5 separate regions of the Homo sapiens genome follow, and all the other regions are linked to region 3. Evidence: fine-mapped expression QTL. A gene starts in region 3. Each other region holds a variant in brackets. All regions are shown on one strand. Distances are from middle to middle.

What was found. PIP is the estimated chance that this variant, and not a neighbour inherited with it, causes the effect.
Region 1: its variant is fine-mapped to the expression of ADGRE1 in CD4 T cells (Kasela 2017, PIP 0.95).
Region 2: its variant is fine-mapped to the expression of ADGRE1 in whole blood (TOPMed, PIP above 0.99).
Region 4: its variant is fine-mapped to the expression of ADGRE1 in testis (GTEx, PIP above 0.99).
Region 5: its variant is fine-mapped to the expression of ADGRE1 in whole blood (INTERVAL, PIP 0.94).

Annotation. Positions count from the first base shown.
Region 1 is chr19:7,149,229-7,154,357 of GRCh38, reverse strand. INSR (insulin receptor) reads left to right here. Exons shown (of 22, transcript NM_000208.4): 10 at 1,431-1,632; 11 at 3,826-3,861. Among named protein-coding and RNA genes, the nearest start is that of ZNF557, 82 kb to the right of the region's middle. The variant G/AAGAG (reference allele first, on the strand shown) is at 3,196.
Region 2 is chr19:6,926,285-6,931,284 of GRCh38, reverse strand. It overlaps ADGRE1 (adhesion G protein-coupled receptor E1), which reads right to left. Exons shown (of 21, transcript NM_001974.5): 16 at 4,684-4,919; 17 at 3,074-3,140. The region is part of intron 1 of LOC105372256 (a long non-coding RNA gene); the gene reads left to right. Among named protein-coding and RNA genes, the nearest start is that of ADGRE1, 41 kb to the right of the region's middle. RefSeq lists an enhancer at 4,761-5,000. The variant T/G (reference allele first, on the strand shown) is at 2,196.
Region 3 is chr19:6,885,477-6,890,590 of GRCh38, reverse strand. ADGRE1 (adhesion G protein-coupled receptor E1) reads right to left here and starts at 3,012. Exons shown (of 21, transcript NM_001974.5): 1 at 2,952-3,012; 2 at 48-110. The coding sequence starts at 2,982. RefSeq lists an enhancer at 2,959-3,018.
Region 4 is chr19:6,858,960-6,864,088 of GRCh38, reverse strand. No RefSeq gene overlaps it. Among named protein-coding and RNA genes, the nearest start is that of ADGRE1, 26 kb to the left of the region's middle. RefSeq lists an enhancer at 946-1,085. The variant G/A (reference allele first, on the strand shown) is at 2,578.
Region 5 is chr19:6,938,711-6,943,827 of GRCh38, reverse strand. ADGRE1 (adhesion G protein-coupled receptor E1) reads right to left here. Exons shown (of 21, transcript NM_001974.5): 21 at 3,378-3,804. The coding sequence ends at 3,799. Among named protein-coding and RNA genes, the nearest start is that of ADGRE1, 54 kb to the right of the region's middle. The variant C/G (reference allele first, on the strand shown) is at 2,678.

The DNA of each region.
Region 1 (5,129 bases), 260 kb before region 3:
GCACTCCAGCCTGGGTAACAGAACGAGACTCCATCTCAAAAAAAAAAAAAAAAAAAAGTAATTGTGGTTTTTTGCCATTACTTTTAATAGCAAAAGCTGCAATTACTTATGCACTAAACTAATAAAACATGTTGACATGCACTTCTCAGATGACACTCTAGATACAGATATTTTATTTATTTATTTATTATTTTTTTGAGACGGAGTCTCGCTCTGTCACCCAGGCTGGAGTGCAGTGGTGCCATCTCAGCTCACTGCAACCTCCACCTCCCAGGTTCAAGCGATTCTCCTGCCTCGACCTCCTGAGTAGCTGGGATTACAGGCATGCGCCACTACACCTGGCTAATTTTTGTATTTTTAGTAAAGACGGGGTTTCACCATGTTGGCCAGGCTGGTCTCGAACTCCTGACCTCAGGTGGTCTGCCTACCTCAGCCTCCCAAAGTGCTGGGATTACAGGTGTGAGCTGCCTGGCCTATTTTTATTGGTTATTTTACTTTATTTTTAGTAGAGACAGGGTTTCACCACATTGCCCAGGCTGGTCTTGAACTCCTGGGCTCACGTGATCCTCACACCTCGGCCTCCGAAAGTGCCAGGATTAAGGGTGTGAGCCACTGTGCTCGGCTATATTTTTAATCTTTTGAGACAGGGTTCTACTCTGTCACCCAGGCTGAAGTGTAGGGGTGCAATCATAGCTCACTGCAGCCTCGAACTCCTGGGCTCAAGCGATCCTCTCACCTGAGCCTCCCAAGTAGCTGGGACCACAGGCGTGAACCATAGTGTCTGGCTTTTTTCCAAAGCGGAGCTCAAATCTAGGCTCTGTCTCAGCTCAGCCTCTCTGAGAAGGCCCCCTTCACTGTGTGTGTGTGTGGTGCGTGTGTGGTGTGTGTGTGGTGTGTGGCGTGGGTGTGGTGGTGTGTGTGATTTGTGTGGTGTGTGGTGTGTGTGAAGTGTGTATGTGGTGTGTGTGTGGTGCGTGTATGGTGTGTGTGGGGTGTGTGGTGTGTGGTCTGTGGTGTGTGGCGTGGGTGTGTGTGGTGTGTGTGTGATTTGTGTGGTGTGTGTGCGGTGTGTGGTGTGGTGTGTGAGGTGTGCATGTAGTGTGTGTGTGGTGCGTGTATGGTGTGTGTGTGGTGCGTGTGTGTGGTGTGTGGTGTGTGTGGTGTGTGTGTGGTTGTGTGTTTGTGGTGTGTGTATGTGTGGTGTGTTGTGTGGTGTGTGTGGTGTGTGGTGTGTGTGTGTGGTTGTGTGTTTGTGGTGTGTGTATGTGTGGTGTGTTGTGTGATGTGTGTGGTGTGTGTGTGTGGGGGGGTGTGTGGTGTGTGTGTGTGTGGTGTGTGTGTGTGGTGTGTGTGTGTGTGGGGTGTGTGTGTGTGTGTATGTGTGTTCAGCCGCAGAGACTTGAGCCCCCCTTTTCTGTTTCTTTCTCCAGGGCTGAAGCTGCCCTCGAGGACCTGGTCTCCACCATTCGAGTCTGAAGATTCTCAGAAGCACAACCAGAGTGAGTATGAGGATTCGGCCGGCGAATGCTGCTCCTGTCCAAAGACAGACTCTCAGATCCTGAAGGAGCTGGAGGAGTCCTCGTTTAGGAAGACGTTTGAGGATTACCTGCACAACGTGGTTTTCGTCCCCAGGTCAGGACTTGGCGCTGGGCTCTCTTAGTGGGTGCCAATTGGCTTGGTGTTGGTGGAAGGTCATTACTTAGGGACCGAGAGGTAGTGGGACCCAGAGACGGCAGAAGGGTGGGTGGAGTCTGAATGGAGCCCTTTCCTGGGTGGAGGAAGAGATCTTGCAGTTTCGAAATTTCGAGGGGAATTTTATCAGGAAGAGCAAATAATCGCACAAAAGGGGAAAAATGGACAAAACTCAGCATTTGCCTTTCTTACCTCTCCTGAGCTGGTCTCCACGTGAGTTCCAAAACAAACTCCGTTAGACGATTAACATTTTTTTTTTTCTCTCTCTCTCTTTTTTTTTTTTTTTTGACAGAGTCTCACTCTATCGTCCAGGCTGGAGTGCGGTGGTGCGATTTCAGCTCACCCTTTCCGGGTTCGAGTGATTCTTGTGCCTCAGCCTCCCAAGTAGCTGGGACTACAGGTGCGCAGCACCACGCCCAGCTAATTTTTATATTTTTAGTAGAGACGGGGTTTTGCCATGTTGGCTAGGCTGGTCTCTAACCCCTGACCTCAGGTGATCTGCCTGCCTCGGCCTCCCAGAGTGCTGGGATTATAGGTGTGAGCCACCGTGCCTGGCCGTGATTATTGAGGCTTTAGCTGAGCGCAGTGGTGTAAGCCTGTGGTCCCAGCTAGTTGGGAAGCCGAGGTGGTAGGGTTGCTTGAGGCCAGCCTGGGCAACATAATGAGACCCCATCGCTACCAAAAAAAAAAAAAAACAGTTTAAAAATTAGTCAGGCATGGTAATGCATGTCTGAACTCCTAGCCCATGGGGAGGCTGAGAAAGAAGGATCACAAGAGGCCAGGAGATGGAGGCTACGATAAGCGATGATGGCGCCACTGCGCTCCAGCCTGGGTGACAGAGTGAGACCCTGTCTCTAAAAAAAAATTAAAAGTATCTGTTCAGATGTTTACCAATGCTATTCATCCGAGCAGACTTTTCTCCCAGAACCACCAGTGTGTAAGAATCCTCTTTTTTTTTTTTCTTTTCTTTTTCTTTTTTTGTTGCATGTTTCCCCTATGACCCTGAGTCCAAAAGAATGTTCAGGGGGACAGCCAAGGCTTCAAAGTGGTTACTGTTTCACCTGTTACAAACAAAATGTTGGCTAGGCACAGTGGCTCACTCGTGTAATCCCAGCACTTTGGGAGGCCGAAGTGGGAGAATCAGTTGAGGCCAAAGGTGGAGACCAGCCTGAGCAACAGAGTGAGACCCTATCTCTACTAAAAAAGGAAAAAAAAAAAAAAAATAGCCAGACATGTTGGTGCATGCCTTGTAGTCCCAGCTACTCCGGAGGCTGAGGCGGGAGAATTGCTGGAGCACAGGAGTTGGAGGCTGCTGTGAGCTATGATGGCACCATTGCACTCCAGCCTGGGCAACAGAGCAAGACCCTGTCTCAAAAAGGAAGGAAGGGAAAAAAAGAAAGAAAGAAAGGAATGGAGGGAGGGAGGGAAAGAGGAAGGAAGGAAGAGAGAAAGAAAAAGAAAGAAAGAAAGAAAGAAAGAAAGAAAGAAAGAAAGAAAGAAAGA[G/AAGAG]AAAGAAAGAAAGGAAAGAGAGAAAGAAAGGACAGAGAAAGGAAGGGGGCAAGGGAGGGAGAGAGGAGGGAAGGAAGGAAGGAAAAAAGGAAAAGAAAGAAAAGAAAGAGAAAGAAAATGAAAAAAAGAAGGAAGGAAAGAGAAAGAAAGCAAATGAAGGAAGGAAAGAGGGAAAAAGAGAGAAAGAAAGTAAAAGAGGAAAGAAGGAAGGAAGGAGAGAGAGGGAGAGAGAAAAGAGAAAGAGAAAAGAAAAGGAGAAAGAGGAAAGAAACCAGAAAGAGAGAGAGAAAGAAGAAAGAAGGGAAAGAAAAGAAAAATTCTGCCAGACTTGGAGAAGTGGCTGAGTCAGTTGTGATGTCCACATGTAGTCACGTTTGACATCCCAGGGCCACCTCAGCAGGCCGTCTCTGGGGAGAATTTTCTCTGATTTCTTCCCCTTCCCTTGCTGGACCCCTGCACCTGCTGGGGAAGATGTAGCTCACTCCGTCTAGCAAGTGATGGGAGCGAGTGGTCCAGGGTCAAAGCCAGGGTGCCCTTACTCGGACACATGTGGCCTCCAAGTGTCAGAGCCCAGTGGTCTGTCTAATGAAGTTCCCTCTGTCCTCAAAGGCGTTGGTTTTGTTTCCACAGAAAAACCTCTTCAGGCACTGGTGCCGAGGACCCTAGGTATGACTCACCTGTGCGACCCCTGGTGCCTGCTCCGCGCAGGGCCGGCGGCGTGCCAGGCAGATGCCTCGGAGAACCCAGGGGTTTCTGTGGCTTTTTGCATGCGGCGGGCAGCTGTGCTGGAGAGCAGATGCTTCACCAATTCAGAAATCCAATGCCTTCACTCTGAAATGAAATCTGGGCATGAATGTGGGGAGAAACCTTCACTAACACACTCTTGCTAAAACATAGAATCATGGGAGTGCTTCCTGGGTACCCCCTCCCTGCCTTCTGTTTGCAGCCACTGTTTGCTCACTAAACATCTCTGCACCTCCCGCGTGCATTTGCAGAGGTGGGTGGGGGTCCCCGGAGTCTGAGCTCCCCGCGGCTGGGTGCCCCGACCCAGCAGCTCCTACACCATGAATGGAGGTTGATCTGGAAACAGAATATTTTCATGAAAGGGCGACAGGGTATGAACAAAAGAACACCGTGTCGCTCACTGAATTCCACGGAGGAGAGTCAGGGATCTCTTCCTTCCTTCCTTCCTTCCTTCCTTCCTTCCTTCCTTCCTTCCTTCCTTCTTTCTTTTTTTCCTTCTTTCTTTCTTTCCTTCTTTCTTTTCTTTTCTTTATTCCCTCCCTCTCTCCCTCCGTCCGTCCCTCCCTCCCTTCCTTCTTTCCTTCTTCTTTTTTTTTTGGATGGAATTTCACTCTTGTTGCCCAGGCTAGAGTGCAGTGGTGCGATCTCGGCTCTCCACAACCTCCACCTCCCGGGTTCAAGCAATTCTCCTGCCTCAGCCTCCTGAGTAGCTGGGATTACAGGCATGCGCCACCACGCCCGGCTAATTTTTGTACTTTTAGTAGAGACAGGGTTTCTCCATGTTGGTCAGGCTGGTCTCGATCTCCCGACCTCAGGCGATCCGCCCGCCTCGGCCTCCCAAAGTGCTGGAATTACAGGCGTGAGCCACCGCCCCTGGCCAGGGACGTTTCTTTTCAACTTGAGTCTTAAGAGAATGAAGCAGTATGGTCCTGGGAGAGAGAAAAAGCTTGGAGAACTTGGGAGAAAGGCAAGGAGATGTTTACCTGTCGTGGCTTTTGGGAGGAACAGGAGGTGAGACTAAAGAGGCAAGTTGGGACCACTTGGAGAGATTTTCTTCCTTTAGCAGAGTGTTTATTTATTTATTTTTTCCCAGGCACCTGTGTGGCCTGATCTGCCCTCTAGTGGCCATTTGCAATACTAACTGTAGCCAAGAAGGGTCTAAAAATGTACGGGCTTGGTCCAAAGCAGAT
Region 2 (5,000 bases), 41 kb before region 3:
GCACAAAACCTCTGTGGAGGAATATAATTTCAAGCATTCCCAAGACTTAGATCAGTCAAGTAAACATTACAAATGAAACTAGGCACAGAAAGACACATTTCACATGTTCTCAGTTCTTTGTGGGAGCTAAACATTTAAAACAGGTGAACTCATGGAGCTAGAGAGTAGAACAGCAGTTACCAGAAGCTGGGAAGGATAGTGAAGGGGTGGGTGGGGAACAGGGAAGAGGGGATGGTTAATGGGTACAAAAAAATAGAAAGAATGAATAAGATCTAGTATTTGTTAGCAAAACAGGGTGACTATAGTTAATAATAATTGCATTGTAGATTTAAAAATAACCAGGAGAGGCTGGACACAGTGGCTCATGCCTGTAATCCCAGCACTTTGGGAGGTCGAGGCGGGTGGGTCACCTGAGGTCATGAATTCGAGACCAGCCTGGAAAACATGGCGAAATCCCGTCTCTACTAAAAATACAAAAAATTAGCTGGGCGTGGTGGCGCACACCTGTAATCCCAGCTACTCGGGAGGCTGAGGCAGGAGAATCGCTTGAACCCAGGAGGCAGAGACTGCAATGAGCTGAGATCATGCCATTGCACTGCAGCCTGGGTGACAGAGCAAGACTCTGTCTCAAAATAAAAATAAAAATAAACCAAACAATAAAACAAAACAAAAACCAGAAGAACATAATTGGATTGTGTGTAACACAAAGGACAAATGCTTGAGGGGACAGATACCTCGTTGACTCTGATGTGATTATTATGTATTCTGTGCCTGTATGAAAATATTTCATATACCCCATAAATATATACACTTACTTTGTGCCCACAAAAATTAAAAATAAAAAAAAATTTAATCCTCGAAAAATATGACAAAAGACATAAGGGAATGAGCCACCATGAGTGAGAGTCAGAAGAATCATCATCTGGCAGGGCTGTCAAGTCTGGATGGAGGTTGGGAGGCAAAGAGATGGGTGTTTAACATTCCCTGGCCTCCCTTTGCCTCGATCCACCATTTCCCTCTGTCATCTCACTCCTTCCCCCACAATTCCTCCTAATTTCTTTTTACTTTTTCTTTCATTCAACATCTGTGCCTAGGAGATGACATAGGATTTAAAAAAGATTTATTTAGGCAGATAGTGAGGGTAAGGAAGTCCTCGGTAAGGTTTTCCTTTTAATGAAAAGCAGCTCCCAAATCATTTTCTTTTCTAATGGAGAGCAGCCGGTAGAATCGAGCTATAGACATAGAAAGGCAAGCTAGAAGCTTGCATGGGTGAATGCTGGCAGTTGTGCCAATAGGAAAGCGGTTACCTGGGGAATAGGCATGTTCAAAATGGCAGCTCTGGCTGGGCGCAGAGACTCACGCTTGAAATCCCAGCACTTTGGGAGGCTGAGGCAGGTGGATTAACTGAGGTTAGGAGCCTGGTCAACGTGGTGAAACCCCATCTCTACTAAAAGTACAAAAATTAGCTGGTCATAGTGGCATATGCCTGTAATCCCAGCACTTGGGGAGGCCGAGGCAGGCAAACTACGTGAGGTCAGGAGTTTGAGACCAGCTTGGCCAACGTGGTGAAAACCCATCTCTATTAAAAATACAAAATTGCCGGGTGTGGTGGTGCGTGCCTGTAATCCCAGCTATTCGGGAGGCTGAGGCAGAATAATTGCTTGAACCCAGGAGGCAGAGGTTGCAGTGAGCCGAGATTGCACCACTGCACTCCAGCGTGGGTGACAGAGTGAGACTCCGTCTAAAAAAAAAGAAAAAAAAAATGGCAGCTCCGTCTTCCCTTTTCTTTGTAAACCATGTAGACAGTAAGGAGAAGACAACATGGTGCCAGCCAAGTAAAGACCCCATTTGCATAATAAAAGATCAGGGTGGGTGGCCAGCTTCCTCGCGCTCTACGTAAATGTCACACTGGGTCCAACCAATCTTTGGGCCCTATGTAAATCAGACACCGCCCCCTCAAGCCAGTCTAAAATCTGTTGCACTTTGCTGCGGGCCAGAAGTCCCACTCAGGAGGCCCTCTCTCTTGCAAGACACAGAGAGCTAGTCTCCTTTCTCTTTCTTTTGCCTATTAAACCTCTGCTCTTAAACTCACTCCTTGTGTGTGTCTGTGTCCTTGATTTCCTTAGCATGAGGCAACGAACCTCAGGCATTATTACCCCCAGACAATGACACTGCTTCAGAGAGACTCATGGACC[T/G]GTGCACAAGACGGATACAATTATGGTCCCTCCCAGGGGTATTTGCCTTTCAGAAGGAAAAACAAAATTCCCAAGTCAAAGAAATTACTCTGTAACTTCGAAATCTCAAGAATGAAGGATTGGAAGGGAGAACTTTTTTTTTTTTTTTTTGAGATGGAGTTTTGCTCTTGTTGCCTAGGCTGGAGTGCAATGGCGCAATCTCGGCTCACCGCAACCTCTGCCTCCCTGGTTCAAGCAATTCTCCTCTCCTGCCTCAGCCTCCTGAGTAGCTGGGATTACAGGCATGTGCCAACACACCCAGCTAATTTTGTATTTTTAGTAGAGATGGGGTTTCTCCATGTTGGTCAGGCTGGTCTTGAACTCCTGACCTCAAGTGATCCTGGGCCTCTCAAAGTGCTGGGATAACAGGCATGAGCCACCGCAACCTGGCCGATAACTTATTTATTTATTTTTTTTTTTTTGAGACGGAGTTTCACTCTGTTGCCCAGGCTGGAGTACAGTGGCATGAATTTGGCTCACTGCAACCTCCATGTCTCCTGGATTCAAGCGATTCTCCTGCCTCAGCCTCCTAAGTAGCTGGGATTACAAGTGCTCGCCACCACACCCAGCTAATTTTTTGTATTTTTAGCAGAGATGGGGTTTCGCCAAGTTGGCCAGACTGTTCTCGAACTCCTGACCTCAGGTGATCCACCCGCCTCAGCCTCCCAAAGTGCTGGGATTACAGGCGTGAGCCACCACGCCCGGCCTGGAAAGGAGAACTTTTGATGGGAATAAGTGACCCTCTCAGCTGCACACGTCCCTGGAAATTCCAGATCTCGCAGGTCTCCTTGCTCCTCCTTCAGAACACACTTCGCCAGGCTGTTGTAGTATTTGCTTACCACTATAACTGTGCAAACTGGCCCCAAGAAACTCCAGATGAACCCTGTCTCTGTATTCAGCCAGCAGCTGTGGAGAGAAATAGGAGGAGTCAGCGCTTGTCTCAGAGTCCTGACCTTACAGTTAACCCTGTCCCAACAAATGCCCTAGTGGAGGAGAACACTGGGAGGTGAGACTCAGATGATGCTCAGGATGGTCCCGGTTGCAGTTCAGTTTCCTTTAGATCACTGCGCTTCCTCTTTTAGACCTTCTTCCTGGGCAAATGTACCTGAAATGTTTACCTAGTGCCCAAGGTTGAGCTCATTTCCCAATTCACAACTTTGTAATCCTGTTTCCCTCTATGCAGAACTCTCCACTGGTACACCTTATCATTCAAATCTCAGCTCAGGCCGGGCGTGGGGTCTCACGCCTGTAATCCCAGCTACTTGGGAGGCTGAGATAGGAGAATCGCTTGAACCCAGGAGGTGGAGGTTGCAGTGAGCTGAGATCACGCCACCGCACTCCAGCCTGGGTGACAAGAGCAAAACTCTGTCTCAAGATAAATAAATAACAAATAAATAAATAAATAAATAAATCTCAGCTCAAATGTCACCTCCTCTGAGAAGCCACTCCTGACTATCCTTAGATAGGGCAACCTGTCTCTGCTCCTGGTATCCATCTAGCAGAGCTCACTGCATTTTTAAAACAGCAGCTATCACTATCGTAAGTTACCTTGTTTAATTGCTTGTGTAACTGCAAACTGTCTTCCACTACTAGACTATGAGTTTCATGAGAATTTGGGCCTTAGGTGTTTGTTCATCTCTGAATACTCAGCACTCAGAGCACAGCCTAGCATAGACAAGATATTTCATAAAATTGTTTATTCGAAGAAAGGAAGGAAAGAAGGAAAGAAGGGAGGGAGGAAGGGAGGAAGAGAGGGAGGGAGGGAAGGGAAGGAAGGCAAGGAAGGAAGGGAGGGAGGGAGGGAGGAAGGAAGGAGGGAGGGAAGAGGGGAGGGAGGAAGAAGGGAGGAGGGAGGGAGGGAGAGTGGGAGGGAGGAAGAAAGGATTGGCTCCTTTTATTATGTCTCTAGTGTACATTAGCTGCTTTTACAACACAACAACCATTCCGTCATGTTCAATAACAGCACCCCAATATTCCCCCCACTTTTTTCTGAGATGAAGTCTCGCTCTTGTCCCCCAGGCTGGAGTGCAATGATGCCATCTCATCTCACTGCAGCCTCCGCCTCCCGGGTTCAGGTGATTCTTCTGCTTCGGCCTCCCGAGTAGCTGGGATTACAGGTGCACACCACCATGCAGAAGTATTCCTTTCCCACTTTCACCCCCACCACCCCCCATGTCATACACGCAAGAAAAGGAAAATAATCAAGTTAGGTAAACCAGATGTTCTCTTCCTGGAACATAAACCTCAAATAGTAGTGATCCTGGATTTGTGCAGTGCACAACCCATGCTGCTGTACATGGTGGTCCTGAAACCAATAGTACATAATAGAAGAGCTCGATAAATGGTAGCCACAACTACTGCTACTGTTGTTACTCTTCTTGTTGCTCATGTCATTATCACCATAAGCCCTGGCAGCAGGGTCTTCAGGAAGAGAGAGGATGTCACTCACCGATTATGCATTCCATAGCCCTGTGGCTGCACACTGGCAGAGATCACCACCACCAGCATCGGCAGCCCATAACCAAAGGCACAGATGTGCAGCATCTTGATGTTGCGAGAGCTGAAGTAATTCACCACCTTCAGGTTTCTGACCATCAAGAACAGTATCACAGCCTCCACCAGCATCCAGAAGAAGCAGGCAAGGAAAAGGTAGTGCAGGAAGCCCGCGATGATGGCGCAGCCCATCTGGAGGGGAGAAGCATGCGCATCAGAATCCTCCACCCCAGAGAGAAATCGAAAGGAAGAAAGGAAGAGAGAGACTCCTCG
Region 3 (5,114 bases):
ACTTTCTCTACCCCTTCAGGCATCTGCATTCTCTCTGGCCAACTTACCCTTTGTGTTTGGTTTCCGTGTGGGTCTTATGTGCCCTTCCCAGCTGTGCATAACACAACATCCTGTGAAGAAAGAAAAGAAAAACACCATGAACCACCAAAAAAAAAAAAAAAAAAAAAAACCTTTTGGGCTCAACCTGCAAAATTACTCCTGGCTTGGCCCCACAGAAATAGGTTTGAAGAGGCTAGATGACAAACCTAGTTAAGGAACAAACATACACTATTTTGCATAAGCTTAACAATGACCATTCCTGGTTTTCTGTACTTTGCTTTTGCTTTTCATTTTGTCTGTCTTTATCTTCTTTTTCTTTTTGATTAAATAGTTCCAGGCTAAGCACTGTGGTGCACACCTATAATCCCAGCCCTTCGGGAGGCCAAGGTGGGAGGATCACTTGAGACCAGCAGTTTGACACCGGCCTGGACAACACAGTGAGACTTTGTCTCTACAAAAAAAAAATTTTTTAAATTAGCTGGGTGGTGGTGACAACTTGTAGCCCCAGCTACTCAGGAGGCTGAGGTGGAAGGATTGCTTGAGCCCAGGAGATAGAGACTGCAGTGAGCCAAGATCATGCCACTGCGCTCCAGCCTAGGTGACCCTGTCTAAAAAAAAAAGTTCTAGCTGATTTTCAAAAACATACATTAAAGCATGCATTCTCAAAAGGGGTGATATATCCTCTAAGGACCCAAACTTGGTTCTCAGGAAGAGATCTTTTTAAGCTTACTCTTTTATGTATAAGATACATATGTATATATAGAAAATACATATATAGGTATACAGTATATCTGTAGTATTAACATTTCATGAGAGGGTAGGGCAATTCGTTTTTCTTTCCTTTTTTTTTTTTTTTTTTTTTTTGAGATGGAGTCTCACTCTGTCACCAGGCTGGAGTGCAGTAGCGTGATCTAGGCTCACTGCAACCACCAACTCCCTGGTTCAAGCTATTCTCCTGCCTCAGCCTCCCGAGTAGCTGGGATTACAAGCACGCACCACCACGCCCAGCTAATTTTTGCATTTTTAGTAGAAACGGGGTTTCTCCATGTTGGCCAGGATGGTCTCGATCTCCTGACCTCATGATCTGCCTGCCTCAGCCTCCTAAAGTGCTGGGATTACAAGCGTGAGCCACTGCGCCCTGCCCATTTTTTAGTGTTTAAAGGCAATGCAGCCCTGCAGCATTTAGGTCTCCTGCACCATCATCATTATCGCCATCATTATCACTATCATCATCACCATCATCATCTTCATCATCACCATCATCATCATCATTATTATCACCATCATCACCATTATCATCATCACCATCACCATTATCACCATCACCACCATCATCATCATCACCACCATAATCACCAACATCACCATCTTCATCGTCATTATCACACCATCATCACCACCATCATCATCATTATCCCTATCATCACCATTATCATCATCACCATCATCACCATCTTCATGGTCATTATCACACCATCATCATCACCATCATCTTCATTATCACTATCATCACCATTATCATCATCATCATCATCACCATCACCATCATCATCACCATTTTCATCATCACTATTATAACCACCACCATCATGATCATTATCATCACTATCATTATCACAACTCTTTGCTGATTATCTTCAGGGCAGAATAGGGAGTGTTAATGGTTAATACCATTGCCAACACCCCAAAATAACAACTCTGCATGCCTACATTTGATGTCCACAGGCCACCTATTTCTTCTAATGTAGCCTGCCAGTCAACAAGTCCCACAGATCTAAACTCCCAAATTCTATCTATTATTACTAACAAAAATTCTTCTACTCATTCATTAATTATTTTAGAGGTAATTCAGCATGCTGTTTAGGCATACAAAGTCTGAAGTCAAAGTGCTTAGGTTTAAAAATCTGGCTTCACCAATTAATGATTGCGTGGCCTTGAGGAAGTTATTTAATCTCTTTGTGCCTCAGTTTCCTCCTTGGTAAAATAGGGTATTCAGATCCACTCTTCAACAGCAGAGGAAACCCATACTTGCTACTTAGAATATGTCCCCAATATCCTCCATTCTTAAATTTGATCCAATGACCAAAACACACAAGACATAGAAGAAAAACCAGAAACACAGAAGATAAACAAGGCTGAGACAAACTGACACCTGAAGAAAGAGAAATAAGAGCACAGGAAGGGTCTATCTCATCCTTCAGGACTCAGCTCGAACTGCCCCTCCTCAACCCCAGACTTCTCCCTTCAACATAACTCCCGACCACATTCTATAACAACTTCTTTCATAGCACTTATCACTACCTGAAATTCCTATGTTTACTTATTTTTTGGGGCAACATAGTATAGTGGAAAAGCTTACAGACTCTGAAGTCAGACTGTCTGGCTTGAAATCCTGCCTCTACCCCTTATTGACTAAGTGGCCTTGGGAAAATTATTTTATCTCTTTTGCCTCAGTTTTCTCATTTGCAAAATAGGACTAATAATGACCCAATGTCATAGAAATGTTGTGACAATTGGATACACTCTATGTTTAAAGAAGTTACAGCAGTGCTAAGTGGGCTATGATCATCTGTGCCTTCTTTCCTGTCTGCTCCTACCCACTAGAATATCAGCCTCAAGAGTGCAGGAACTTAGTCTTTTTTTCTCACTGCTATATCCTCTAGTGCCTAGAACAGCACCTGACACACAGGACTTGCTCAGGTCAAATGAATGACTATAGAGAAAAATCTATCCTAACAGATGGACTTCCCTGAGCTATGGAATTTTGTCAAAGGTTCCCTGAATGAAGGTGTTTGCAGCATCCAGTCTGGACTTATGATCTCTTGGCTGGACCATCCATGGCCCTCCCATTTCTCCTGAAGTCTATTTCCAATCCAGGCCTCCCCTAGCCCCCCATTCAGCCTCACACTCACCCCAGAAGAGGAGCAGGTTGAAGCCACGCATTATGCTGTAGTTCTGTCATTCAAAGAAAAGAAACTTTTCTACTAACGCTGGGTTTTCAGTAACCAGAAGGTGTGCGAAGAGGGGAAGGCGGAGTCAGAGTTGCTCAATGCTGCCTGGTCATCATAGCCCTTTTTGCTGACTTGCTGCAACTAAAAGACAGCCTAGAAAATCCTAATTTCCCCCTTTCTTCACAATAAAGAGAAGTTAATCTGCCTAATGTATATCATTCTCTCTCTCTCTCCTTCCCATGGTCTCTCCCTTTTTCTTTCCCATCAACATCTATCTCCCATCTCTCAACACCTTCTTTCATTGCACCCAATAAAGGAGCTTCCGCTTCCTGCCTCCAGTGAAGCAAATCTCAGCCTTTAGGGTCTCTTCCCAGTCTCCCGTATAAAGACAGCCATCACAACCATCATGTACCAGGCAGTGTGCTAGGCACATTGGCAACAAAGTGTAATTTCATTATCATGTTAACCTTGTAAAGTAGGAATTCCCCTCCCTCCCTCTATTCACCAACAAAATGGAAACTGAGACTTGCAGAGGAGTTATAACTTGTCCAAGATCTCTCAGACTTGAGATTTGAACCCAGGACCCTCTGATTCCAGAGTCAAGAGCTTTAACCATCTTATTTTCCTTCAGATCTCAACTCTGTCTGACGATTATACAGCAACACTTCCACCCCATTCCCAGCTTCCTAACTCTCTCTGGTAACATCTTAGGGTCTCACAAGGGCAGACCCTCAGACAAGGATTCTAGCAAAAGTAGTTTATCAAGAAGGTGGCCCCAGAAAGCACCAGCTGGGGGAGGAGAAAGTGAATCAGGAAAGGCAAAGAGCCAATACTGGGTGTGTCTTCAAATAAGTTACATGGTGAGAAAGTGGAACTTAACCTCCCCAGGGATGACTGGGGAGCGGCATGGAACATACTCTTCAGTTATTCCAACCGAGGGGTGAGGGAGCTGAGGTATTTATATCCCACCTACTGTCAGTCATGGGTTGACTTGAGGCTTGCTCCTAGAGGGTGTCAACCCCTTGAATCTTCAGGCCTGGCCTCCAAGCAGATAGAATGGGCTCCAGTTGATGTAATCCCACTGATAACAAAGTGTAGTGACTGGCAGATATTGAAGCAGTGTCATCCATCTGGGGTAATACCCGAGGTTCATTGCCTCACACCAAGGAAATAGAAAATACAGACATGGCCGGGCACCGTGGCTCACACCTGTAATCTCAGCACTTTGGGAGACTGAGGAGGGTGGATTACGAGGTCAGGAGTTCAAGACCAGCCTGGCCAAGATGGGGAAACCCCGTCTTTACTAAAAATACAAAAAATCAGCCAGTGTGGTATGGTGTTAGGCACCTGTAATCCCAGCTACTCCGGAGGCTGAGGCAGAGAATTGCTTGAACCCAGGAGGCGGAGGCTGCAGTGAGCCGAGATCGTGCCACTGCACTCCAGCCTAGGCAACAGAGTGGGACTCTGTCTTAAAATAAAATAAAATAAAATAAAATAAAATAAAATAAAATAAAATAAAATAAAATGCAGACACACAAAAAATTACTTTTAGAGCAGAGGTTTAGGCCGAGCACAGTGGCTCATGCCTGTAATCCCAGCACTTTGGGAGGCTGAGACGGGTGGATCACCTAAGATCAGGAGTTTGAGACCAGCCTGGGCAACATAGTGAAACCCCATCTCTACTAAAAATACAAAAATTAGCCAGGTGTGGTGGCTCATGCCTGTAATTCCAGCTACTCAGGAGGCTGAGGCAAGAGAATCGCTTGAACCCGGGAAGCAGAGGTTGCAGTGAGCCGAGATTGTGCCATTGAACTCCAGCCTGGGTGACAGAGCAAGACTCCATCTCAAAAAAAAAAAAAAAAAGAAAGAAAGAAAAGAAATTTAATAGGCGAGAGAAAGAGAAAAGCTCTCTCTCCTGCAAAGAGAGGGGGCTCCCAAGTGGGTCTTCCAGTTTCATGGTGAAATGCACGGGGTTTTATAGATGAGCTTTAGGTGGTGATATCTGATTTACATAAGGGCCCAAAGATTAGTTGGACCAGGTGTGCCGTTTACATAGAGTACAAAGAAGCTGGCTGCCCACCCTAATATTTTATTATGCAGATGGGGTCTCTACCTGGCCAGGAC
Region 4 (5,129 bases), 27 kb after region 3:
TCAAAAGAAAATACAAAAATTAGCTGGGCGTGGTGTCGGGCTCTTGTAGTCCCAGCTACTCGGGAGGCTGAGGGAGGAGAATCACTTGAACCTGGGAGGTGGAGGTTGCAGTGAGCCAAGATCACACCATTGCCCTCCAGCCTGGGCGACAGAGTGAGACTCTTTCTCAAAAATAAATAAATAAATCACCCCCACACCACGGCTCCCCAAATCCTGCAGCTTAGAGCTCAAACATCCAAACCTGACTTCTGAGGCCCCCTAACAGCCTTCTCTTTGGAAACAGTCTAATCAGAGAGTTTGAGACACTGAAGCCAAATCACCGAAGGCCACCAGAGGGCACTACATAGCTTCAAATTGGTGCTGTGGGGTTACAATGGGCAAGATACGCGGAACTTGGTTCCGCGGCTCAAATGCCAGGACAATGCGGAAGTGTTGGCTGCCTAAGAACAAGTCCCGCCTTGCGTGAATGGTACCCATGAAATATGACAGCTCCCTATGTGACAATCTGCCTCGCGCCTCACTTCATTGCCTGGAATTCCACCATTAGGGAGTCATTCCTTTGGATAAAAAATGTTCCTCTGGAAAAAAAAAAAAAAAGTTCCTCTGGGCCGGGCGCGGTGGCTCACGCCTGTAATCCCAGCACTTTGGGAAGCCGACGCGGGCGAATCACCTGAGGTTAGGAGTTCGAGACCAGCCTGGCCAACATGGTGAAACCCCATCTCTACTAAAAATACAAAAATTAGCTGGGCGCTGTAATCTCAGCTACTCGGGAGGCTGAGGCAGGAAAATCGCTTGAACCTGGGAGGCGGAGGTTGCAGTGAGCCAAGATCGCGCCACTGTGCTCCAGCCTGGGAGACAAGAGCGAGACTCGGTCCCACCCCCACCCGCCCCCCCCACAAAAAATGTTTCTCTTCCAGAAAATATTAAATAGTTCAAGTTGAGACCCCTAGAAAGCACTAGAAATTAAAGACGTGGGAAGAATCCTCAGACCACAGAAAACAGCTGTAGGTGGAGACCCTTCCACCTACTTTGTATTTCTCTGCCTTCTCAACAATATGAACGTGTTTGGCTGCGGACGTTGGCTCACGCCTGCAATGCCAGCGCTCTGGGAGATTGCGCTATCGAGGTGGCGCACTACTGCTGCTGTCCATCAGGGGGCAAGCGCGGCTTTAATTTGTGGCTGTCTGCGGTGGGACTGCCTGGCGATGTGTCTGTGTGATGTTTAGGAATGTCCCTGTTTGATCTAGTGGGTGTCTGTCTGACGGCGTTTGAAGTCTATATCCGCTGATTTCATTTGTCTTTATCAGTGTTTGTAAATTCTTAGGGCTGGGGGTAGGAGTGAGTGAGTGTGTGTGTGTGTGTGTGTGTGTGTCTGTCTGTCTGTATTGGGGGCTGTCCGTTGTACATTCACCATGTTGGCCAGGCTGGTTTCGAACTCCTGAGCTCAAGTGATCCACCTGCCTCGGCCTCCCAAAGTGCTAGGATTATAGGCATGAGCCACCACGCCCGGTCTCCCAACAACTTTTCACCCACCCCACCCCCACTTTCCTCCCTCTCCAAGCAAAATGAGCCCCTTGAAGTTTCCAGAACCTACCAGGATCACTATCATTTGCCCCTCTCCCTAAAAAACTTTCCCTTCATTATTTATTATTATTATTATTGAGTCTCACTCTGTCGTCCAGGCTGGGGTGCAGTGGTGCAATCTCAGCTCACTGCAATCTCTGCCTCCCAGGTTCAAGTGATTCTCCTACCTCAGCCTCCCGAGTAGCTGGGATTACAGGCACCTGCCACCACACCGGCTAATTTTTGTATTTTTAGTAGAGATGGGGGTTTCACCATGTTGCCCAGTCTGGTCTCGAACTCCTGACCTCAAGTGATCCGCCGCCTCGGCCTCCCCAAGTGCCGGGATTACAGACATGGACCACCGTGCTAGGCTGTCCCCTCATTTATTTTCTAGGTGACTCCATCCAGCTGATTATACAGTTGCCACCTTAGATGTTTCCTCCTCCAGGAAGCCCTCCCTGACCATCCTCCCCTACTCAAGCCTGGGTTAGATCTGTATTTGCTCCCACAGCCACCTGTGTTCCTTATGAAATTCATCAACTCTGTGTTATAATTGCCTGGTTGATTGTTAAGTCCCCTACTGGATTATACGTGCTTTTCAGGCAGGTCTGCGCCTGAGTCATTCACACAGCCTGGGGCTGAAGGTGAGGGCCACCCAGGAACTCCAAGAACAAGTCCATGACCTCAACCTCACCAACACCCTGAACTAGACAGCCCAGGTAGCCACCTTAGGCCATAGGTAGGTTCATGGTGTGACTCTGGGGGAGTCACGGGAGGGGCAGAAACCCCCCGTCCTAGTTCCTGATCCCTTGTGACTGCATTGCTTCCTCCAACACCCATTTCTAGATTCATGGTTCCTCAAACATGAAAAACACTTCACTCCAGGCTTCAGAGGCTATATCCTGCACCTGGCCAGGTGTGTGCAGGTACCATCTAGGCGTTGGCTTACCTGGGGTTGCAGAGAGAGCTAGGATATACCAAGATCCCCACCCGGCACTAGAGTGACGGTTAAGA[G/A]CGTGGTTCTGTGCTTAGGTGCATACCGACTCTCTGCCTGTGGCGAGCTGATTTTATCTTTCTCTGGTTCAGAGAGGCGAAGTCTTTCCCAAAACTTTATAGCTAATTTCACAGGGGCACAGAGGACCTTAGAATCTCTTGGAGCCCTGACCACTATGCTCTATTTCATATAAAAATAAAAACTGGCCAGGCCCAGTGGCTCACGTCTGTAATCCCAGCACTTTGGGAGGCCGAGGCGGGCGGATCACAAGGCGAGGAGATCAAGACCATCCTGACTAACACGATGAAACCCCATCTCTACTAAAAATGCAAAAAATTAGCCGGGCGTGGTGGCGGGCACCTGTAGTCCCAGCTACTCGAGAGGCTGAGGCAGGAGAATGGCGTGAACCCGGGAGGCGGAGCTTGCAGTGAGCCGAGATCGCGCCACTGCCCTCCAGCCTGGGCGACAGAGCAAGGCTCCGTCTCAAAAACAAAAAAAACAACAACAACAAAAAGAAACCCGGCCGGTTGCAGTTGGCTCACGCCTGTAATCCCAGCACTCTGGGAGGCTGAGGTGGGCAGATCACGAGGTCAGAAGATCGAGACCATCCTGGCCAACATGGCGAAACCCCTGTGTCTCTACTAAAAATACAACTGTTAGCTGGGTGTGGCGGCGTGTGTCTGTAATCCCAGCTACTCGGGAGGCTGAGGCAGGAGAATCGCTTGAACTTGGGAGGTGGAGGTTGCAGTGAGCCAAGATTGCACCACTGCACTGCAGCCTGGCGACAGAGCTAGACTCCATCTCAAAAATAAATTAATAAATAATAAAATAAGATAAAATACCACGAAGCTGGCTGTGAGATTAATCTAGATACTGTGTAGGAAGTGCTTACTTTCATGGCGCCAGACAACACTGAATACTTGACACGGGAGGTGCCTCTGTTAGTAGTATGGTAGGGTAATATATTTGGAAGTATGAACTACTTTTTCCCAAATTAATTTATAGCCCATGATCCTTCCCCAGCCCTGTCAGCTTAGGCCAGCCCATCTTTTTGCCTCCTAAGGGTTATGCTAGCAGCCTGCAGATTTACCCAAAAAGCAACTCCCTGGCTTTTGTTGGTCAGTTGGTTACTTGGTTGTTTCTTTGCTTTGTTTTGTTTTTTGTTCTTTGTTTTTGTTTTTGTTTGAGATGGAGTTTTGCTCTGTCACCCAGGCTGGAGTGCAGCGGTGCAGTCTCATCTCACTGCAACGTCCCCCTCCCAGGTTCAAGTGATTCTCTTATCTCAGCCTCCCAAGTAGCTGGGATTACAGGTACCTGCCACCACGCCCGGCTAATTTTTGTATTTTTAGTAGAGATGAGATTTCACCATGTTGGCCAGGCTGGTCTCAAACTCCTGACCTCAAGTGATCTGCCCGCCTCGGCCTCCCAAAGTGCTGGGATTATAGGCGTGAGCCACTGTGACTGGCCTGGTTGGTTTTTAGAGATGAGGTCTCACTCTGTTGCCTAGGCTGGAGTGCAGTGGTGCAATCATAGTTCACCACAGCCTCCACCTCCTGGGCTCAAGCAATCCTCCCACCTCAGCCTCCTGAGTAGCTGGGACTACAGTTGTGTGCCACCATGCAGAGCTAATTTTTTTATTTTTTTTATTTTTTTATTTATTTTTTTTTTTTGTAGAGAGGAAGATCTTACTATTTTGTGCAGGCTGGTCTCGAGCTCCTGGCCTGAAGCAATCCTCTGCCCTCAGCCTCCCTGGCTTTTGAACTTCAAAATCTTCCTTGGAGATCCTGAATCTTAGTTTATGAGCATTAAAAGTCTAAGGGCTGGGCGCAGTGGCTCACGCCTATAATCCCAGCACTTTGGGAGGCCGAGGCTGGTCGATCACAAGGTCAGAAGATCGAGACCATCTTGGCCAACATGGGGAAACCCCGTTTCTACTAAAACTACAAAAATGAGCCGGGTGTGGTGGCGGGTGCCTGTAATCCCAGCTACTTGGGAGGCTGAGGTAGGAGAATCACTTGAACCCAGGAGGCGGAGGTTTCAGTGAGCCGAGATTGCGCCACTGTACTCCAGCCTGGGTGACAGAGCAAGACACCATCTCAAAAAAAAAAAAAAAAAAAATGCCAGGCGTGGTGGCTCATACCTGTAATCCCAGCACTTTGGGAGGCCGAGGCGGGTGCATCACGAGGTCAGGAGATCGAGACCATCCTGGCTAACAAGGCAAAACCCCGTCTCTACTAAAAATACAAAAAATTAGCCGGGTGTGGTGGCAGGCGCCTGTAGTCCCAGCTACTCGGGAGGCTGAAGCAGGAGAATGGCGTGAACCCAGGAGGCAGAGCTTGCAGTGAGCTGAGACCGCACCACTGCACTCCAGCCTGGGTGACAGAGCAAGACACCGTCTCAAAAAAAAAAGAAAAAAAAAAAGCTTAAGAAAATAAATTTCATGTAATGTATATTTTACTGCAATTTTAATAATTAATAAAGACTATTAAATAAAAAATGGCCAGGTGAGGTGGCTCACGCCTGTAATCCCAGCACTTTGGGAGGCCGAGGCGGGTGGATCACCTGAGGTCAG
Region 5 (5,117 bases), 53 kb before region 3:
AGTAGAGACGGGGTTTCATCGTGTTAGCCAGGATGGTCTCAATCTCCTGGTCTCATGATCAGCCTGCTCCGACCTCCCAAAGTGCTGGGATTACAGGCGTGAGCCACAGCACCCGGCCAATAAATATTTTTTGAGTGAATGGATCTGTAATTTTCTGTACACAATTATTTGGATTATAAGATAGCAAAGTTATTTCACATTATATTCATGGGATTTGCAGCCACTTAGGGTTTTCCATATATAATATCTGTACATATTTATGGGGTACATGTGATATTTTGTTGCATGCAGAGTTTGCAATGATAAAGACAGGGTATTTGGGGTGTCCACCATCTTGATCATTGATCATTTCTAGCTGTTGGAAACATTTCAAGTTTTCTCTGCTAGATATTTTGAAATATGCAATACAGTGTTGCTAACAATAGTCACCCTACTCTACCAGTGAACTTCAGAACGTATTTCTTCTACTCATGCATTTTTTTTTTTTTTTTTTTTGAGATGGAGTCTCGCTCTGTCACCCAGGCTGGAGTGCAGTGGCACGATCTCGGCTCACTGCAAGCTCCACCTCCCGGGTTCACGCCATTCTCCTGCCTCAGCCTCCCTAGTAGCTGGGACTACAGGCGCCCACCACCACGCCCGGCTAATTTTTTTGTATTTTTAGTAGAGTCGGGGTTTCACCGGGTGAGCCAGGATGTTCTCAATCTCCTGACCTCGTGATCCGCCCGCCTCAGCCTCCCAAAGTGCTGGGATTACAGGCGTGAGCCACCGCGCCGGGCCGCATTTTTTTTTTAATTGTCTCCTTTCTCCCTCTAGCGGAGACATATGAGACCACAAGGGTAAAAAAAATGTACCAAGTATAGCTTGATGTGTGTAGTACGAAAAAAATCCTGCATGGAGGTCACACCTTTATCCACTTACCTTAGAAATATAGAGCTTCTTAAGGTGACTATATTTCAGACCAACATGTAACACCGTTGTACAGACAGACAAAGCCTTAGGCAAATCTTCTCTCAGGAAAAAACTTTATTCAAGTAGTACAGAATTTATTATCCTGATATCTCAGAAGAAATTGAGATCAAAATTCTTTCTTTTTACATTCCAAATTGTTGCAGTCCAATGCAGAATGTTGACCATACTTTGGTTGTTGTATCCATCAGCAATTGCTACAAATAAATGCTTCATAACAAATAACTCCTGAAACTCAGTGTCTGAAAAATGATACTTTCTTGCTGCTCCTCAGTCTGTTTATGGGTTGGCTGAGCAGGTCTGCTGATGTTGGCTGGGCTCTCTCCTGTGATTAAAGCAGCAAGTTGGCATGGTGGCTGGCTGAGGACAACCTCCACCAGTGTAACTGCGGTGACTTACCCTTCATTCTGTGTTTCTCATGTCCCTCCAGCAGGCGGGCTTGGGCATGTTCACATGGTGGGGGTAAGGAAGCAAGGTGAGCAAATGTAATCGTGTAACTGGTAAGAAGGATTACACATACGATTTTGAAACTTACGTTCCAGTCACATTTCCTAACCTTCCACTGGCTGCAGCAAATCTCAAGTCCAACCCCAGAGTCAGACAAGGAGAGAGTTACAAAGTTACAGGAAAGGGATGTGGCTAAATGGAGACCATTATTGGGCCCATTGATGCCATTGACCTATGACAATTGGCTATGGATAGGAGCAGTGCCATCTCTTGCTTCCATCTCTCTAAGAACTATCACCTCTGTATTGAGCACTCTGGATAAGCCAAGCGTTGAAGACTAATTTATCATAGATGAACTCTTGTTCACAAACATGTGTCCCACCTCCCAAGTTAGGCTGCCAAGAATAACAAAGACAGAGCCTCCATCAACTGAGTTTAATATTGTTAACAAATTGTCCAGTGCATGATATGACTGAGCTAATTGAATCCTAACTGCTTAGGTGACTCAGAGTAAATATTATTCTAGTCTCTGTAACCCTAAACTAAGTATTCCTGGCACGAAAGGAAGAGAAAAAGGGGAACAAGGCATCTGGAGAAGGAGCTTTATGGTCAAGAGCTCAAAACCCAGCTCAACGACCTATGTGGCTGTGTGATCCTGGGATAGTCACTTAACCTCTCTGAGCTTCAGTTCCCCTGTCTTCAAAATGAAGAGTAATCATTCTAATCATTCATTCATTCATTCATTCAACATATTTGTTGAGACGCTACTTAATGCAAATCTCTGTACTTACGAAGCTCACAGTCTATGTTGGAGACACCCAACAAAAAGAGAAATCATAATACAGGGTGAGAAAGCATGAAGCTTTTTGGCACACACAAAAATAATGCCAAATTCTACTGTAGGAGATTCAAAGAATGCTTCCTAGCAGAGGGGATGACTACACTGCAACTCAAAGAGACAGAAGACATCAATTGAGTTTTCAGGGAAGTTATTCTAAGAGAAGATGCAAAGGGTCCAAGTCAAGAAGAAGACATTTCTCTCTGGCTTTAAAGACAAGCTCTGCTGTCAGCATGGCAAACAGAAGAATGTTCTACAATAGTGCTTTTCAGACACCCATGGTTATATTCATCCCCTGGGGATGTTAACATGCAAGTCCTGATCTAGGAGGTCTGGAGTGGGGTCTGAGATTCTTCTTTGCTTTTCTAACAAGCTCTCAGGTGATGCTGATGATCCAGGGACCACGCTTTGGATTGGGAGGTTTTA[C/G]AGTGCCCATAGAAGTGAAAATACCTGCATTTAAACCTTCATCTTCTTCTCTCCCAAGCTCAAGAATTTAAGGATGGTGGCCGGGCGCAGTGGCTCATGCCTGTAATCCCAGCACTTTGGGAGGGTGAGGCGGGTGGATCATCTGAGGTCAGGAGTGCAAGATCAGCCTGGCCAACATGCTGAAACTCCGTCTCTACTAAAAATACAAAAATTAGCCAGGCGTGGTGGTGCACGCCTGCAGTCCAGCTACTTGGGAGGCTGAGGCAGGAGAATCACTTGCACCCGGGAGGCAGAGGTTGCAATGAGCCGAGATCATGCCACTGCACTCTGGCCTGGGCAACAGACCGAGACTCTGTCAAAAAAAAAAAAAAAATTAAGGATAGGTAGCGATAACTGTGATAGAGAAAATCCTAAATCCTAGCCAAGTCATTAGAAAGTTTCTAGAAAACAGGGAGGTCTTGGTTACCTGAAGGACCTCAGGAAACCAAAGCACTTTCCAAAGGTTGTTGTCACCAAGTGCTTCAACCCTCCAGGGAGTGCTAGAATTCTGCTACATCAAACATCCCCCTACTTACCAACACAACTATTTTTAAGTGTTTGTGCCAAAGTAGCTTATCTGTCTATGTGCCGTCTTGGTTCCCTGGGACTCTCATTACAGTTTTACTGACCATTTCTTTAAAATCACAAAGAGTCTTTATCCTAGGGTAAATCAGTCAGACAGGCGACAAATCATTTATTGAGAGGTTCTCTGTATCAGGCGTATGATAGGCTCTGGAGGGGCATGCTTAGAACCATGCACCAACAAGGGCAGGAGAAAACAAAATGGTAGCCAGGTGTTCTTGGTCATGCCATTGAATTTGGGTCTGTTCTCAGAAACTCTGGAATTGAAGAAGTTGCAGAGCACGAAGATAAAATGGTCGTTTGGAGCAGAAACGCCTGATTTCTCATCAGTGCATACAACCACAGGAAGACCGCCCCCAACATTCTTCCCCAGAGGGTTCTGGGGCTGGTGGGATCCTCATTTCCATGTTAAGCTGAGAAGAGATTTCAGGGTAGGCTCCTGCAGGAAACTACTGTCCTCAACTGTGGCTCCATAGCATATTTGAAAGCAAGAAAGGACTTTAACCCTGTGAGAGAGAAAAGAATTTCCTCAGAGTCTGCAGCAGAATTAATACAAACGTGATTCCAAGGGTCATGTCTACAGGGACAGAAGTATTAAAAATACAGTAACAAAGACTAGAAGGATAAACACTAAAATGTTAAATGCGATTGTCCCTAGTGTGGCAGGCAGAGTTGGAAAACCCAAAAGCCATTCTCAACCTCCTCAGCATTGACAGCGCCCACTCTGGACTTTAGGAAGCCAAACAGCTGTTGGTTCAAAATTTTTTGCCCATATGAGTGGTCACATGATACACTTCTGACCAATTAGGTAAAGGGAAATCTGAGAGTTTTCTGGGCTTTCATTTACTGTTAAAGACAAAGACATGAAAGAAGGGCTTTCTGGTCCTGTCCATCCCTCTTCTTCTTGACTTGAACATAGTCATGATGTCTGGAGCTGTGGCAACCATATTGCAACCATGAAAATACAATAAAATGTCAACATGTTGATGGTGGAATGGAAAACTGGGGAAAACCCAGATTCTTAGTTTAGAGCCTTTACAACACCACTAAGCATAGAACCAGCAACACCAGCAATATTCGCAACACCTAATTCTGGACTTCTTGCAAGGAAAATCATTTCCCTATTTAATTAAGCCACTGGATCTAAGGTGCTTGCATCCAAAAATATGACTCACTGGGATCTGTATGTGGTGGGATAATGGGAAATTTTATTTGTTTTCAATGCTTACAAATGTTTTCTAAAATGTTCTATACCTATACTGTCTTTTTCATTAAAACTATAGTAAACTGCATTATGTTTAAAAATGTATTGCCAAGAGAATATGTCATCCATGATATGGGCAATTTTTCCAGTGGGGTGATTCCTGTGGCTCATTCTGAAATCACTGGACTTAACCTCTATGACATTCGGTTTCCTCATAATGAAAATAGACCAGCTGGGCGTGGTGGCTCACACCTGTAATCCCAGAACTTTGGGAGGCTGAGGCAGGTGGATCACCTGAGGTCAGGAGTTCGAGACCAACCTGGCCAACATCATGAAACCCTGTCTCTACTAAAAATACAAAATTTATCTGGGTGTGCTGGCGGGCGCCTGTAATCCCAGCTACTTGGGAGGCTGAGGCAGGAAAATCGCTTGAACCCAGGAGGCAGAGGTTGCAATGAGCCAAGATCACACCACTGCACTCCAGCCTGGGTTACAGAGCGAGACTCCATCTCAAAAAAAAAAAAGAAAAAAAGAAAGAAAGAAAGAAAGAAAAAAGAAAATAGAGCAGTGATACCTACCTCACTGGACTTCTGCAAGGCTTAACACTGAGATCCT